Linked DNA regions of Homo sapiens: regions 1, 2 and 3 are each reported to be linked to region 4. Evidence: microRNA targets listed by miRTarBase, many of them from high-throughput screens and not tested one by one. Region 4 holds a microRNA gene; each other region holds the end of a gene's coding sequence.
Evidence for each region. The annotated mature microRNA hsa-miR-10a-5p reads UACCCUGUAGAUCCGAAUUUGUG and lies in region 4 at 894-916, shown strand. An mRNA with a match to its seed (bases 2 to 7 or 8) in the 3' UTR can be bound and repressed. Matches are read on the target gene's strand: a 7mer-m8 pairs with bases 2 to 8, a 7mer-A1 pairs with bases 2 to 7 and ends in A, and an 8mer does both.

Region 1 (3,394 bases), not on the chromosome of region 4:
TCCTGGGATCGCAGGCACACACAGCTCCCCACAACCACTACACACACACACACACACACACACACACGCATTTTAAATTCCCATGAAAAAATTAACTTTGCATATATGGGCCACATGCCCTTCCACATCCTGCTTAAAGCACCTCAACAGCCCCTAAGTTCCTGTTTTGTCAAAATGACTTGCCCTGGAACCGGGCACAGGCAAGGCTGCCCATGTGAGTGTGAGTCTGTTCACCCATCTCTGGTCCACAGCCCACACCAGGGCCTGGTCAGGCTGCCTCCCATCGTCTTCTGCGAGCAGGCCCAGCTGGCATACACAGGTGGCGACCTGGAATCAAGCAATCAAGCAGGTGCCTTCTCTCAGGTCACTCTTCCATACTTGCTGAGGAAAACCACAAAAGACCTCCAAGCTGCTTGAGTTAAAGTCTCCATTTATTTTTATTTTTTTACAAAAATCCAATGTAAGACCATTGTGCTCGTGACGAAAAGGGGTGGGGTGGATGGACGTGGCATGGATATCAAAGCTTCCCCCCACAAACTAGGAGCTCCCCACTCTGTCCGGCGCAGCTCCCAGAAAGATCCCATCCTTCCGGACAGGACCCCAGCTGGTGAGCCCTGGCCTGAGGCACAGTCCACACGGAGGAGCACTGCCCAGGGAGCCAGCGCTCACAGTGGCCTGCAGAGCCCTGGGACGGTGTTATGGTAAGACAGCCCAAACCGGAGCAGCAAGCCGGCCACCCAGAGAACGAGGCGCTCCTGCACCCTGCGAGCCAGGACAAGGTGGCCAGGGGCGGCCCACAGACAGCCAAGGAGACCCGGGGTCTGTGGCGCCGCTTTCCCATCTCAAGCGAGTCACAGGTCGGCGGCTTTCCCGTGGTGAGAAGCACCTGACCAGTGACACTGTGGCCACCTTGCTGCCTCTCGCTGAGGAGGGCGTGCCCCTCAGAGCCTGTCTGCAGTCCTTCAAGCCAGTGTTCCTTTCAGGGTCAAGGAGGGCTGTCCTTGTTGGAAGCACCGGCACCACAGCCCTCCCTGCGGCATGTTTTGGTGTCAGACCACTCAGCCCTTCTTAGATCCACCAGTGACATTCGGGGCCCGACAACCTGGCTCCACTAAAGGGAGAGGCCCTGGCTCCACCACACAGACGGCCCCAGCTCACTGAGTCCCGCTAAAGGGGGTCCCACCACACAGACGGCCCCGGCTCACCGAGTCCCACTGAAGTCAGTATGTGAGTTCCTCACATTAAAAGAAACCAGATGAAATAGCAGCCACAATATAGCGCCACACACCACACTCTTTGGCTCCCCGAGGGAAGAAGGCTACTGCTAAAAGGAATACAAGTCAGGAGTCAGGTAGAGGGCAACTAGAAAGTTCTGAGGAAGGGCGTCTGACCCCCACTGCTGGGAACATAACCACACTGCCTCAGCAGGGGAGCTACAGGCTGATGCTGGGGTTGGGGGCGGGGAACCTTTGGAAACACAGTCCTGGCGGCGGCCGGGTCCGGTTTGCCAATGGGGAGAGTTCCCTTAAGCCGAGCTAGCCCTACAGGTGGGTGGGAGCTACACAAAAGAGCCCAGCTTCAAAACAGTACTTGAAGAGGACCCACGTGGTACAGGCAGGTCAGAGGAGAACGTATTCCAAGAAATAGAAGCACAGGATGCCAAGGTCTAGGGAAGACGGAACTGGCTTAAGGCATGTGCATGACCAGGACAAACCTGAGCTTTTGTTCAGTTGCTAGAAAACTTCCAGAGTCAACTCCACTTCCAGAAAGTAGGGTTCAAGAAACACGTCATGGGCTAAATCCCTGACAAATGCCACTCACACCCTCCTAGGTTCCCCTACTGCCACCGTGACCCAAAAAATTAGCTTATTTCAGTTTCAGCCCAGGGAACAGAATCCTAAGCAGGGAGTGGAAAGTGGTAACTCGGGTTGTGAATGCCCGTTAGATTCCAAGGCTGGATGTGAGCTTACACAGCAAATCACAGCCTCCCATTGTTCTAGCACATACCAAACCTCGGGGAGTCCTACAGCCAAGCTGACATTAGGGGTCCAAAAACCACAGATAACACAGGATGGGGCTCCAGACAGAGGCGGGGGGAAGGTGAATTTCACCAAGGAATTATCCCAAGGCAGGCGCCTTGCTGTAAAACTTCCCGGCCAGCCGGGTGGGTTCCTCGAAGGACACTGGCTTGCTCTACACTAGGGAGAGGAGGCTGACCTGCAAACCACTTCAGACCACAGCAGATGTGCACGCTGCTGATCTCCTGTCCAATCCAAGAAAGAGCACTTCAGAAACGCCTGAGGCCCACAGCACGTGTGTTTCAACAGAAGAGCAGGATAGAAAGAGCCATCTGGGAGTGGCGTCTTCAGCCCCTATTCTTTCTCACTCTTTGCTTCCTCATTCTCTCTCAAACAAGAGAGAAATGGGAGAGCAGGGATAAGTACGGAGGCAAGCCTGGCCTAAAGATAAATCCTCAAAAATCGCTGGCCCCAGCAGCAGGAAGCTGAACAGCCCACCAGGGTCAGGCGCTCCCAGGGATTCACTGGGAAGAGAATGTGAGTTACAGGTTGCTGACTGGCAACAGAAAGGGTAAGGAAGAGACCTTGTCCAGGCCCGCAAGAGGGCCAAGTTCATCCCTTTCTGGTTGCTGCACACAGATGGCGCTGGGGAGGATGGGAGATGATCTTTAAGGATAAGCCAGTGACACAAGGCCAGGACCCATCTCCGCCAGAATACAGAACAAAGGAGCCTGCGCGGTCCCTCCCTTAGAAAGGCAAAACTCACACTCCCCCAGCCAAAAATATATATGTATGCAAGTGTGTGCATGTATTTATATACACACACATATATATAAATAAGCCTTGAATGGCAAATCTGAAACTTTCTCTTTTTAAATAATCATAATAGTTGTTATTGAATGTAAAAACCACGAACCAGCTGTCCTGGGCGTACGAACGGTGTGAGTGACTCTGCAGAGTCGCCACAGTCCTCAGTGTAAGCTATCAGTCAGTGCCCTGTGTGGGGAACCCCGGGGACTCCGCCCAGGGCTCCAGGCCCAGTGTGGCTGACTTCAAGATAAAGGCAGCGGTTTCCTTCCACTCCTCCTGCTGCCCCTTCCAGCAGAGGCTCTGGGCCACCCACCAGCAGATGTGCCCAAGGTCCTGCAATGCCTAGGAACCTTGGGAGCCATCTTCCTCCCTCTGCTCATCCTCTTCCCCAGACCGTGCGCTGCCCCTAGATGAACTTGAAGCACTTGGTCTTGTCATGGGGCAGGCGTGTCTTGAAGAGCACAGAATCCACCCTGAACTGCGTGTACAGGAGGGGCATGTAGCCGTACACCTTCACGAAGAAGTTGATGCACTTGTGCCGCTCGTGGAAGTGGGAGTCATCATGA
Region 2 (3,412 bases), not on the chromosome of region 4:
AGGTTCCTGGGCAGAAAGGGGTGGGGTCTTGTTGAAACCCCCACTTCGATCCAGGAATGGCCTGAAGCCTGGGGACCGGGCTGCCAGTTCAGGGTGGAGTTGGCAGCCCGGAGTGAGAACTTATGGTGCTTTTTCCAGGCCCACCCATGGCCATTCATGGACCAATCAGCATGCACTTCCTCCCTTCTGTGCCCATTAAAAACCCTGGACTCAGGCAGACTCACACTTGTTGGGACGACCTGCCTGTGGAAAACAGCTACCCACTCCGGGTCTCCTGAGAGCTGTTTTGTCACTTGGTGAAGCTCCCCTCTGTCTTGCTCACCCTCCAGTTGTCTGCATACCTCATTCCTCCTGGAGGCAGGACAAAAACTCGGGACACGCTGAATGGCAAGACTCAAACAGCTGTAATACAGGGCTGAAACATGCCCCCCACTTGCCATGTGGCAGGCGATGAGAAGGAGAGAAGAGCTGTAGCCCTTCTGGGAGCCCAGACCTTAGAGCTCCCCAGGCCAGAGCTGTGACACCCTCTTTGGGGCTCTGCGGTACCTGGTGTCTCCAAGCTTCTGGGCACCACCATGTTCCCCTTGTCCAGATGTGGGTAACTGCAGTGGAAGCTGCTTGTGGTACATCTGATCCAGTTGCAGCCTTGCATGGAGCCGGCGCCTGTGCCAGTGCCTGGAGCTGCCTGCCCTGCCACAGCAGCTGGGGTGCCTGGCTGTGTGCAGTGGTTGGACCTCATGCTCACTCGCTCACATACCCCTCATTACTCCATGCCTGGCTCACCCTTGGCAGGTGTGGGATCCCAGGCTGGTAGCGTGAGCTGAGCGCAGCCTGCCAGGCCGAGTGGACAGAACAAGCCCAGTGGGCCTGAGCAAAACTCAGGCAAAGGCACCACTGGCCACAGAGGTTTCTGGCTGGAAAAGCAACACCTCTAGGATCTTGTAACACGGTGTTGGTCAAACCTCTTTGGCACACACATCGCTTGGGTCTGAGCCCAAATGTCTGTTCAAATCAGTCCACCACTCACTAGCCATAGGGCTTTGGTAACGTTAAGAAGCCTCACAATGCTTCAGTCATCTACAAATGGGAGTGGTATGTACTGCATCACTTAATGTGAGGTTATCAGAGTTTACACGTCAAATGTTTAGGATACAACCAGACACACAGAAGATGCTTGATAGATCTTAGCTCTCATTACATGCTTCAGTAGCATCACATGCTTGTCTTTTGCAAGACTTATCAGAGCTGGACTTTCAATACTTGTGTGATGTTGACTATCTCTCCTAGTAGGGACTTGAACCAGGGATGATGAGTGATTTGCCCACAAGTGTGTCCCCAGTATCTAGCATGGAGCTTGGCATATAGTTGTGCTGAATATTCTCCAGTTGCCTCTCCAGATCTATCCCCAGCCTCCCCTGGCTCTGTGCCCCAGGAGGCTGAAACCTCTGTGGATCGTCAAGCGGCTCCCCAGTCATTGAACTTCTGGTTGGGTTTGGCCAATGGGAGACACTGGCAGGAGATAATAGGGTGGACAGAGAATGAGATTGGGATATTTATTTCCCTGGCTTTCTCTGCCAGGCCACAAGCTGATGTAGCTGTGTCTCTTTCTTAGAGATCCCCATGCATCTCAGGAAACCACAATCCCAACTATTCTCCAGGACAGGTGAATGTCTGGTAGTGCCTGGCCCCAGGATGCTTCACCCCTTCTTCTGGTCCCCATGCACCTATAAACTGTGCCTTCCTTAAAGTCTGCTCAATTATTCCAGTTAATGTACCATGTCTTTCCTTCTAGAACATTAAAACAAGAGGTTCTATATCAACATTTGTTGAATACATGAATAGATGTCTGTTTTACCACATGAAGATAATAATCTTCAAGTCCAAGCATGGCTACAGTTGTCCTGATGAGTTAATAAGAGACAGGAAATGATCATACATTTTTTAAAGATGATGTTCTCGAGTAGTAGTTCTCAAACGTGGGTGTGTATGAGAAACCTGGAGGGCTTGTGGAACCCATATAGCTGGCTCTACTCCCAAGAAATGCTGATTTGGCTAGTCAGGCCAGGGGGTGAGGGATAATAATTTGCACTTCTAACAAGTTTCCTGGTGACACTGACGTTTCTAGGCTGAAGGCCACTTTGAGAAACACTGCACTAGAGAAATGCCAGATGCTTTTGTTATTTATAGACCCCAAGCCTCAGGGTTGCATTAACTATCTTTAAAGACATAAAGGGTCAAGTACAATATAATCTGTTTTATTTTACACTTCTCTGATTATTGAAATCTAAATAGAGGTTTTTGCTAACAAACAAAAAGGAAAATAAAAAGACAGCAAGGACACGATTAAATGTTGAGTGCAGATGAAGGGTTGTATGAGGCCCCATCCTGGGGAGGCTGTACACCTTCTTGGCACAGCAGCAGTGTGGCCCACGGAGCTTGAACCTGGTGAAGACAGCAAGTAAGCCACAGCTCAAGAGTTCTGAGGCTTGGGAACAGAAAAGAGCTCCTTCCTGCTCCACCCCAATCTGGGTTGCATGGGCATGGAAAAGAGCAAACACACCCTGCAAAGCATACTGGACATGCCTCTTCTTTACCTTCTCAGGCCAGAACACCCTCCTCTCCACAAACGTGTGCACACTTGCACGCTCATTAAGCATGTGCACACATCATATTCACACACTCAAGCCATGCTCTTGATTTCAGGGCTCTATTGCAGGCTCAGGTATCAACCCCAGAGCCGAGGTGTGTGAGAGCTACCTTAGCAGACTCACAAAAGGCTACTGCAGAGGCAGGGGTCAACCATCCCAAGGACCTGGCAAGGGAGAAACTGAATTCTGTATCCCACTGATGTGAGAGGAAATTCTAATGAGCAAATGGGACCAGCGGGGCCCAGTTAGGGAGGTCCAGATGCCAGTTCTGAGATGCCACCCAGCTCTGCCTTGCTCTTCAGTAGCCAGTCAGTGAAAAAGCAGAGTGCCAGGAGGCCAGTACCGAGCAGGTCCCCCAGCCCTGTAAGGTAGGGGATGCAGTGGTTGTCAGGATCCAGGGCCTGGTGCCAAGTCAGCCGAACCATCACTTCTGCGAGGTACAGCAGGATTGTCACCTGTCAGAAGGGCAAAGAGACACAAAAGAAGACCAAGTCAGAAAGTCAAGTACAGGCAGGAAGCACTAGCTGAGGCTCAAGGAGAGATACCAAGGTGGACAGGTCAACCCCAGCCAGCCTCCTTCATCCAGCTTCTCTTGGGGTCTGAAGCCCAGCTCCGAGCTCAAGCAGTGGCTAGAGAGGTGACCCTCATCTGTACTTACCTAGCCTCCCTCTAGTGGGCCCAGCTTCTGGCACCCTGAAGGGCCAATCAGACCCACTGCCACTCACCAGCTGGGGCTCTCTCTGCTGCGATAGGCTCTACTCATG
Region 3 (3,339 bases), not on the chromosome of region 4:
ATGTGATTCCTCTGTCTCCCGGCTTCTTGGAGTTATTGTTTTGGTTTGTTTTTTTTAGAAACAGGTCTTGTTTTGTTGCCCAGGCTGGGGTGCAGTGGCACAATCATAGCTCACTGCAGCCTCCAAGTCCTAGACTCAAGCGGTCCCTCTGCCCCAGCCTCCTGAGTAGCTGGGACCACTGCTGGGCATCATCACGCACAGCTAGTTTTTTAATTTTTATTTTTATTAGAGAGAATCTTGCTGTGTTGTCCAGGCTGGTCTCCAATTCCTGGCCTTCTGCCTTGGTCTCTCGAAGCGCAGGGATTATAGGTGTGTGCCCCACTCCCTGCCCGCTTGAAGTTATTGTTCCTCCCCATCCACAAATAGCTCCTGCAACTTGCCCTGGAAACCCTCCCTCTCCCATGCCCTGTCCCCTACTCCCTCTCCCGTCCCCTCCCCCTCCCGTCCCCTCCCCCCACCCCCCCGCCCCCGCCCCACACACTCTTTTCCACCCAGGGCTTCCCTCAGCCCTCCTGTCGCGCTTCACTGGCTGCCCCATCCGCCCTCACCTAGCCACTTCTAAACCAACCCCATTCCACCTTCCAGCCCCGGCCCTCTAAACCTGCCTTTCCCAACTCTGCCGTCCAGTTCTGTCCTTACCAAGTTGTCCCTAGGCTCCTCTCGGGAACTGCGCGGCCATCGCCTGGCCCCACCCCATTCCCTGGATCTCCCCCCACTTACCTGGCCGCCCCCAGTCCCCTTTCTACCTGGTCGCCTCATCTGGTCGCCTCCGAGCCCCTCCCTTCCTTCCGCCCACTGCACCTGGCGGCCTGTGCTCGGCTCTCCAGCTCCGCCCTCAACTGGTCGCTTCCGGCCCCGCGCCACCCACCAAACCCCCTCCTCACCTGGCTGCCCCCGGGGCCCTCCGCCGGGCTCCTGCGCTGACTGCGCTGCCGCCGCAGGGAGACACTGTACACCGCGCCGTCCTCGGTCTCTTCACCCCAGTCCTGCAGCGGTGCCTGGACGCACAGGCGGACTCAGGGCACCAAAGGGGCACAGGTCCTGGGGCCTCAGCCTCCTTGGCCGCTCGGACTCGGGCCGAGTCCTCCTGCTGCATCCCCACGCCCCTTCCCGGCCAGAAGCTGCGAGACTAGGGCTGGGGTCCCAGGCTAGTCCCCTCCTCGCTGCGGGTCCCCTCCTCCCAGGTCCTGAGGACATGGGGTGGCATTTGGGGATGTCCCAGGGCCCAGTCTAATAGAACCTGTCTCTAGCTCTTTCTGCCGACTGCGCTCAGAGACTCGCGCCCCCATCCCTAAGAGGAACCAGTCGCTTCACTGGGTCAAGGGCCGCGAGTCCCCAGGAGGGGACTCCAGGGCAAGTTCAGATTGGGAGCAGATACCGTCCGACGGGCGGGCGCTTGGAGTTTCTGGACCTGCGGGTCACCAGGGATGCGGGGTCCGGGGATCCCTTGTCCCCTTACCAGGGCCAGCTCTTTGCCTGCTGTGCGCTCCATGGCCGGCGCCCGTCCCTCTCAGTGGCGCCGCTGAGTGAGGCGGAAGGGCCGGCGGGTGGCGGGTGGCGGGCGGCGGGCAGTGGCCGGGCGCTGAGGCCAGAGGGGCGGAGCGGCCGAGCTGCTGGGGCGGGGCGGGGCAGGGCAGGCCGGACCCAGCCTCTGGGTGCCTCCAGCCGGACCCAGCGCCAGCCCAGGAGAGGTCCTGGCTCTTCCGCTGGGTGCCTATCAATCTGTCCCCAGAAGAAAGGACATATCTGTCCCCAAGGGGTCTTTTTTGTATCCCCAGATGTGGGGGAGCTCCTGTGTGGGGGCATGTGTGTGTCCCCAGACCAGAGTCCTCTGTCCTCCAGTGGAAGGGGCTAGCTTGATCAAGTGTGGGGGCATCTTCCACTTTTTATTATTATTGCTATTATTTTGAGATGGAGTCTCGTTCTGTCACCCATGCTGGAGTACAGTGGCTTGATCTTAACTCACTGCAACCTCCGCCTCCCAGATTCAAAGGATTCTTGTGCCTCAGCCTCCCAAGTAGCTAGGATTACAGGTGCCGCCACCATGCTCAGCTAATTTTTGTATTTTTTGTAGAGGCGGGGTTTTGCCATACTTGCCAGGCTGGTCTCAAACTCCTGGCCTCAAGAGATTCGCCCACCTCAGCCTCCCAAAATGCTGGGATTACAGGCATGAACCACGGCGCCCAGCCTTATTATTTTTTAGAGACAGGGTCTCACTCCTGTTGCCAAGGCTGCAGTGCAGTGGCTTGATCTTGGCTCACTGCAATCTCCGCCTCCTGGGTTCAATCCATTCTCCTGCCTCAGTCTCCCAAGTAGCTGGGACTACAGGCATATGCCACCATGCTCAGCTTTTTTTTTTTTTTTTTTTTTTTTTTTTTTTTTTTTGGTAAAAACTGGTTTTCACCATGTTGCCCAGGCTAGTCTGGAACCCCTGGGCTCAAGCGACACACCCAGCTCAGCCTCCCAAAGTGCTGGGAATATAGGTATGAATGAGCCACTGCACCCCGCCCTTATTTTATTTATTGAGACAGGGTCTGGCTCTGTGGCCCAGGCTGGAGTGCAGTAGCACGATCATAGCTCACTGCAGCCTGGAGCTCCTGGACTCAAGTGATCCTCCCAACTCAGCCTCCCAAAATACTGGGATTACAGGCATAAAACCACTACATCGGGCCATCTCCCATTTTTAAGCTCCATCTGCGTCACTAGCTGATGGGAGTCATCATGACCCAGGTTGGAGGAGGCAGTCTGTGGCCCTGGGTTTTCAGGGACAGCCGTCTCTTGGGTGGTGCAGGGTCAAAAACAGATGAATACCCAGGGGCATGGTCGGTAACATTTATTGCGCAACTCTGAGGCCGGGGCGGACCCAGCTGGGGAGATTTACTGTGGGAACGTCTGGCCCGGCCCCTTCCTCCCCTCCGGGCGCCGCTGGCCGCCTCCGTTCCCGGTCCGGGCCGCGTTCAGCCCCTGAAGGGGCCCCGTGGGGCCTGCGCTAGACCCGGAGGGATCGGGGGCTCCGAAGGGGGCCGCCTGGTGGGTGTCAGGACGAGTCTAGGACCTCCGAGAGCGACGGTGCTTCTTGTGACTTTCGATTAATTTCTGGGAACGGATCTTGAGTGATGCGCGGGTCACTACCTCGTTGTCCTCCTCCTCACTCTCTTCGTCTAAGGGGGGTGGGGGGATGAGCAGGGAGCGATGTGGGATCCAGGTCCCCATCCCTGGCTCCCCTTCCCTTTACCACCCCACTCCACCCCCACCTTGGCCCTGAACAGGGTATCTGACAACCTCCTGCTACCCAGCTTGGGGCCCCAACCGCACCCCTTCATCCCCCCACCCATACTG
Region 4 (3,412 bases):
GGTGGCTAGGCGAGTTCATATGTGTTTAGAAGGAAAGGACCCGTCTGGGGCTAGGAAGGTGGGGAAATGGGGTTCCTCCCCACACCTCCCCGGGATAGACCCTCTCTCCTGGCTCCCAGGATGTGTGAGAGGCTGGGAGGGGCCCTATATCATCTGGCTGCATCTTTTATGGTTCCTCATTGCCCTTCATTCGGAAATGAAACGCCTTTGATCTTTTCTCAGGTTGTAAACGGAATTGCCCGTCATTAAATATCCGGGGCCCCATCTGCTTGGTCTCCCAGCATTTTTCTTTACAGCTGTTTCTCTCTCTTTTTACCACTGAATTTTTCCAAAAGGACTTTTATTACACCACCTTCACACCCAGCCGCCTCTTCCTCCTCCCTTCGCTGAGAGGCGCTTTGGAAAATATCTAGATATTCGTTTGATCACAAACTAAAGGCTTGGAGGGGCACGGAGGAGCCGATTGGGGTTTTGTTTTTTCTAAAAAAAAAAAAAAAAAAAAAGTCCTGGGGGGAGGGGAGGGGCGCGAAGGCACCCAGAAAGGCCTGAATCTGACTTCGTGGCAGCCTCAGAATGACCCTTCCTCCTTTTGTGCTTAGCTAATGTTTACATCTCATAATTCATGCGCCACCGAGAGTTGCGCGGCGGCGGCGGAGGCAAGGTTCTCGTCCCTTTGCGAACTGGCTACTTGAAATTCTAATAGAAGAGGAGAATTGAAAACCTTGTAATCCCAAGAACAGACTCGCACTGCCTTTTTCTGTTCCCAGAGCTCAAAACTAGAACAAAACGAAATAAAACCAAAGCACTCAAACCACACCCCAAACGAAGAAGGCGCGGAAAGTAGGAGAACTGGAAAATTTCTGGGCCAAGAAGATCTGTCTGTCTTCTGTATATACCCTGTAGATCCGAATTTGTGTAAGGAATTTTGTGGTCACAAATTCGTATCTAGGGGAATATGTAGTTGACATAAACACTCCGCTCTTATTTTTCCAGAAGAAAAAAATATATATATATGTATATGTAGTATTTTTCTGAATGAGGACAGTCTGGTGACTGGCCACACGAAGACTCCTTCCTCTTTATTCCTCTATCTTTTCCTCCTTCAACTGGTTAGAGATGGAGAAATCATCTACCTGAACTCTCCCCACGCCTGCCCCTGGGAGCCTTGGTCCCTTTTCACATCTCTTTAAGAGGTTAATGTTATTGTTGTTGAAGTTTTAAATTTATCTTCTCGTCCCAAACGCACCCATTTTCTATTCTGGGCTCAGGGAGGCTTTATTGGAAATTGCGAAAAAAAATGACTTGTCTTCAGTGTGCGAAGAAGGCAAAGGAAATTTGTTTAACAAACGGATGCTGAGGCCGCCTTTCCGTTTCAGTTCAGAACAAGATGACCTGGAAATACTCGATTACCAAGGAGTGTTATTGTCTGTGTGGGTCACCTCTATGGCTGTATCCCCAGTATCAAAGGGATGTGAGATTTCTATTCGCCGCGGAGGCGGCGACAATTAGAACGTCTCGGACCCATGGTTAGTATTGCTCGGGTGGTTATGGAATTAGCAAATTGCTAATCAATTTTGCTCTCAAAAGTTGCAGGTTTTTTTACCCCAGCGCTCTGTCTATAGTGTGGGAAACCAAGTCGTTTCTCCAGGCTTGGGCCGTGTGGGTTAAAGGGAGGAGTGGATAGGAGAAGGGGGACAGACGGACTGACGGACACAGTCTAGCTAACCGTGCAGCTAAATGAGATTTGGAAGGCGAAGTCTCCCCGAATTAGTGCATGAATTTCCTATCGATCCGCCCGCGGTTCCATTCATCTCTGACAAGTCCCTCTGCGCACCCGCCCTCTAGCTCTGGACGCCTCCTCTCTCACCCCTACCCTTCCCCATCCAGCTGCAGAGAAAAGCCCCAAGCTCTGTGCTCTGGCCCCCGTATGGGTTCCCCTTTCGAGACGGAGCCCCCAACCCGCCAGTAACCTAACTCCCCATAGAGACGCAGGGTGCTAGCGCTCCCTCCCGCCGAGGGGAGGAGACTGGGGCCTTTGGAAGGTACAGAATGCTGGGCAGAGGTGAGGCAGAACAGGAGGGCTACACCGGGAGCCCCAACTTCTTAAGGGATCTAGGGTTTGCGCTCTGCCTAGCGCCCCAACAGGCCCTCCAGTCGCAACCTGCGCGCGCTCTCTCTCTCGCTCTCTCTCTGATCCCGGAGAGAGCGAGGCAAGGAGGGGGTCGCCCCGCAGGAGCCCTATGTAAATCCTGGTGTTGGGTGGGTGGGTGGGGAGGGGGAAGGGAAGAAGGGGAAATAAACCTCTTTGGCTGGAGTGGGGTCCGGGTGAGCAGATTTCCTTATCCGGGAATCGCAGGCGGGGCGGCCATTGGCTCGGAGGATCACGTGGGCGCCTAACTTTGTTCACTTGACAGTAAGTAGGAGGGCTTTCGGAAACAGGAAAACGAGTCAGGGGTCGGAATAAATTTTAGTATATTTTGTGGGCAATTCCCAGAAATTAATGGCTATGAGTTCTTTTTTGATCAACTCAAACTATGTCGACCCCAAGTTCCCTCCATGCGAGGAATATTCACAGAGCGATTACCTACCCAGCGACCACTCGCCCGGGTACTACGCCGGCGGCCAGAGGCGAGAGAGCAGCTTCCAGCCGGAGGCGGGCTTCGGGCGGCGCGCGGCGTGCACCGTGCAGCGCTACGCGGCCTGCCGGGACCCTGGGCCCCCGCCGCCTCCGCCACCACCCCCGCCGCCCCCGCCACCGCCCGGTCTGTCCCCTCGGGCTCCTGCGCCGCCACCCGCCGGGGCCCTCCTCCCGGAGCCCGGCCAGCGCTGCGAGGCGGTCAGCAGCAGCCCCCCGCCGCCTCCCTGCGCCCAGAACCCCCTGCACCCCAGCCCGTCCCACTCCGCGTGCAAAGAGCCCGTCGTCTACCCCTGGATGCGCAAAGTTCACGTGAGCACGGGTGAGTGCGTGGGCACCCCTTCCCCCTCCCACCCCTGGAGCTTTACACCAAAGGGACTTCGGAGGCATGGGTTGGGGGGGGGTTGAGCTGGGGAAGCCAATTGTCCCCGCTATAAACTCGCCATTGCCGGAGATTTACGGTCGCCTGTTTTCAGAGCCACATAATTACATCCCCCATAAATTTTTATGGCCTGGTGGGCCCTGCGCCTTTGAAGTAGGTTCCCCATCCTCTTCACCATTCTCACCAGCGACTTTTTCGCCAGGGAGATACAGTCTTAATGAAGTTGGAAGTTGGGGAGGGGTGGAGGAGGTGGAGGAGGAGAAGGAGGAGGAGGTAATCCGTATTTAAGCAGAGAGTTGAGTCAACTCCCAGTATTTATTTTTTCCTTTCTTCCAGTCTGACTCCTTGGCTGGAGAAGTGAGCAAAAGTTTTCAGTAGGGGTAGGCACTGCTTGG

Region 1: the mRNA of EXTL3 is a reported target of hsa-miR-10a-5p. The part of its 3' UTR that is shown has no 7-base or 8-base seed match.
Region 2: miRTarBase lists SLC41A3 as a target of hsa-miR-10a-5p. The part of its 3' UTR that is shown has no 7-base or 8-base seed match.
Region 3: miRTarBase lists ODAD3 as a target of hsa-miR-10a-5p. The part of its 3' UTR that is shown has no 7-base or 8-base seed match.

The regions. Positions count from the first base shown.
Region 1 is chr8:28,750,707-28,754,100 of GRCh38, reverse strand. It overlaps EXTL3 (exostosin like glycosyltransferase 3), which reads right to left. Exons shown (of 7, transcript NM_001440.4): 7 at 1-3,394. The coding sequence ends at 3,235. Among named protein-coding and RNA genes, the nearest start is that of EXTL3, 51 kb to the right of the region's middle. RefSeq lists enhancers at 441-1,383, 1,384-2,328.
Region 2 is chr3:126,004,123-126,007,534 of GRCh38, forward strand. SLC41A3 (solute carrier family 41 member 3) reads right to left here. Exons shown (of 11, transcript NM_017836.4): 11 at 2,235-3,103. The coding sequence ends at 2,894. Among named protein-coding and RNA genes, the nearest start is that of ROPN1B, 37 kb to the left of the region's middle.
Region 3 is chr19:11,417,787-11,421,125 of GRCh38, forward strand. ODAD3 (outer dynein arm docking complex subunit 3) reads right to left here. Exons shown (of 13, transcript NM_145045.5): 13 at 2,819-3,161. The coding sequence ends at 3,049. It overlaps RGL3 (ral guanine nucleotide dissociation stimulator like 3), which reads right to left and starts at 1,528. Exons shown (of 19, transcript NM_001035223.4): 1 at 1,460-1,528; 2 at 885-998. The coding sequence starts at 1,492.
Region 4 is chr17:48,577,408-48,580,819 of GRCh38, reverse strand. MIR10A (microRNA 10a) reads left to right here and starts at 873; the gene lies at 873-982. The region is part of intron 1 of HOXB3 (homeobox B3); the gene reads left to right. HOXB4 (homeobox B4) reads left to right here and starts at 2,470. Exons shown (of 2, transcript NM_024015.5): 1 at 2,470-2,957. The coding sequence starts at 2,501. HOXBLINC (HOXB associated long intergenic non-coding RNA) reads left to right here. Exons shown (of 1, transcript NR_183916.2): 1 at 1-503.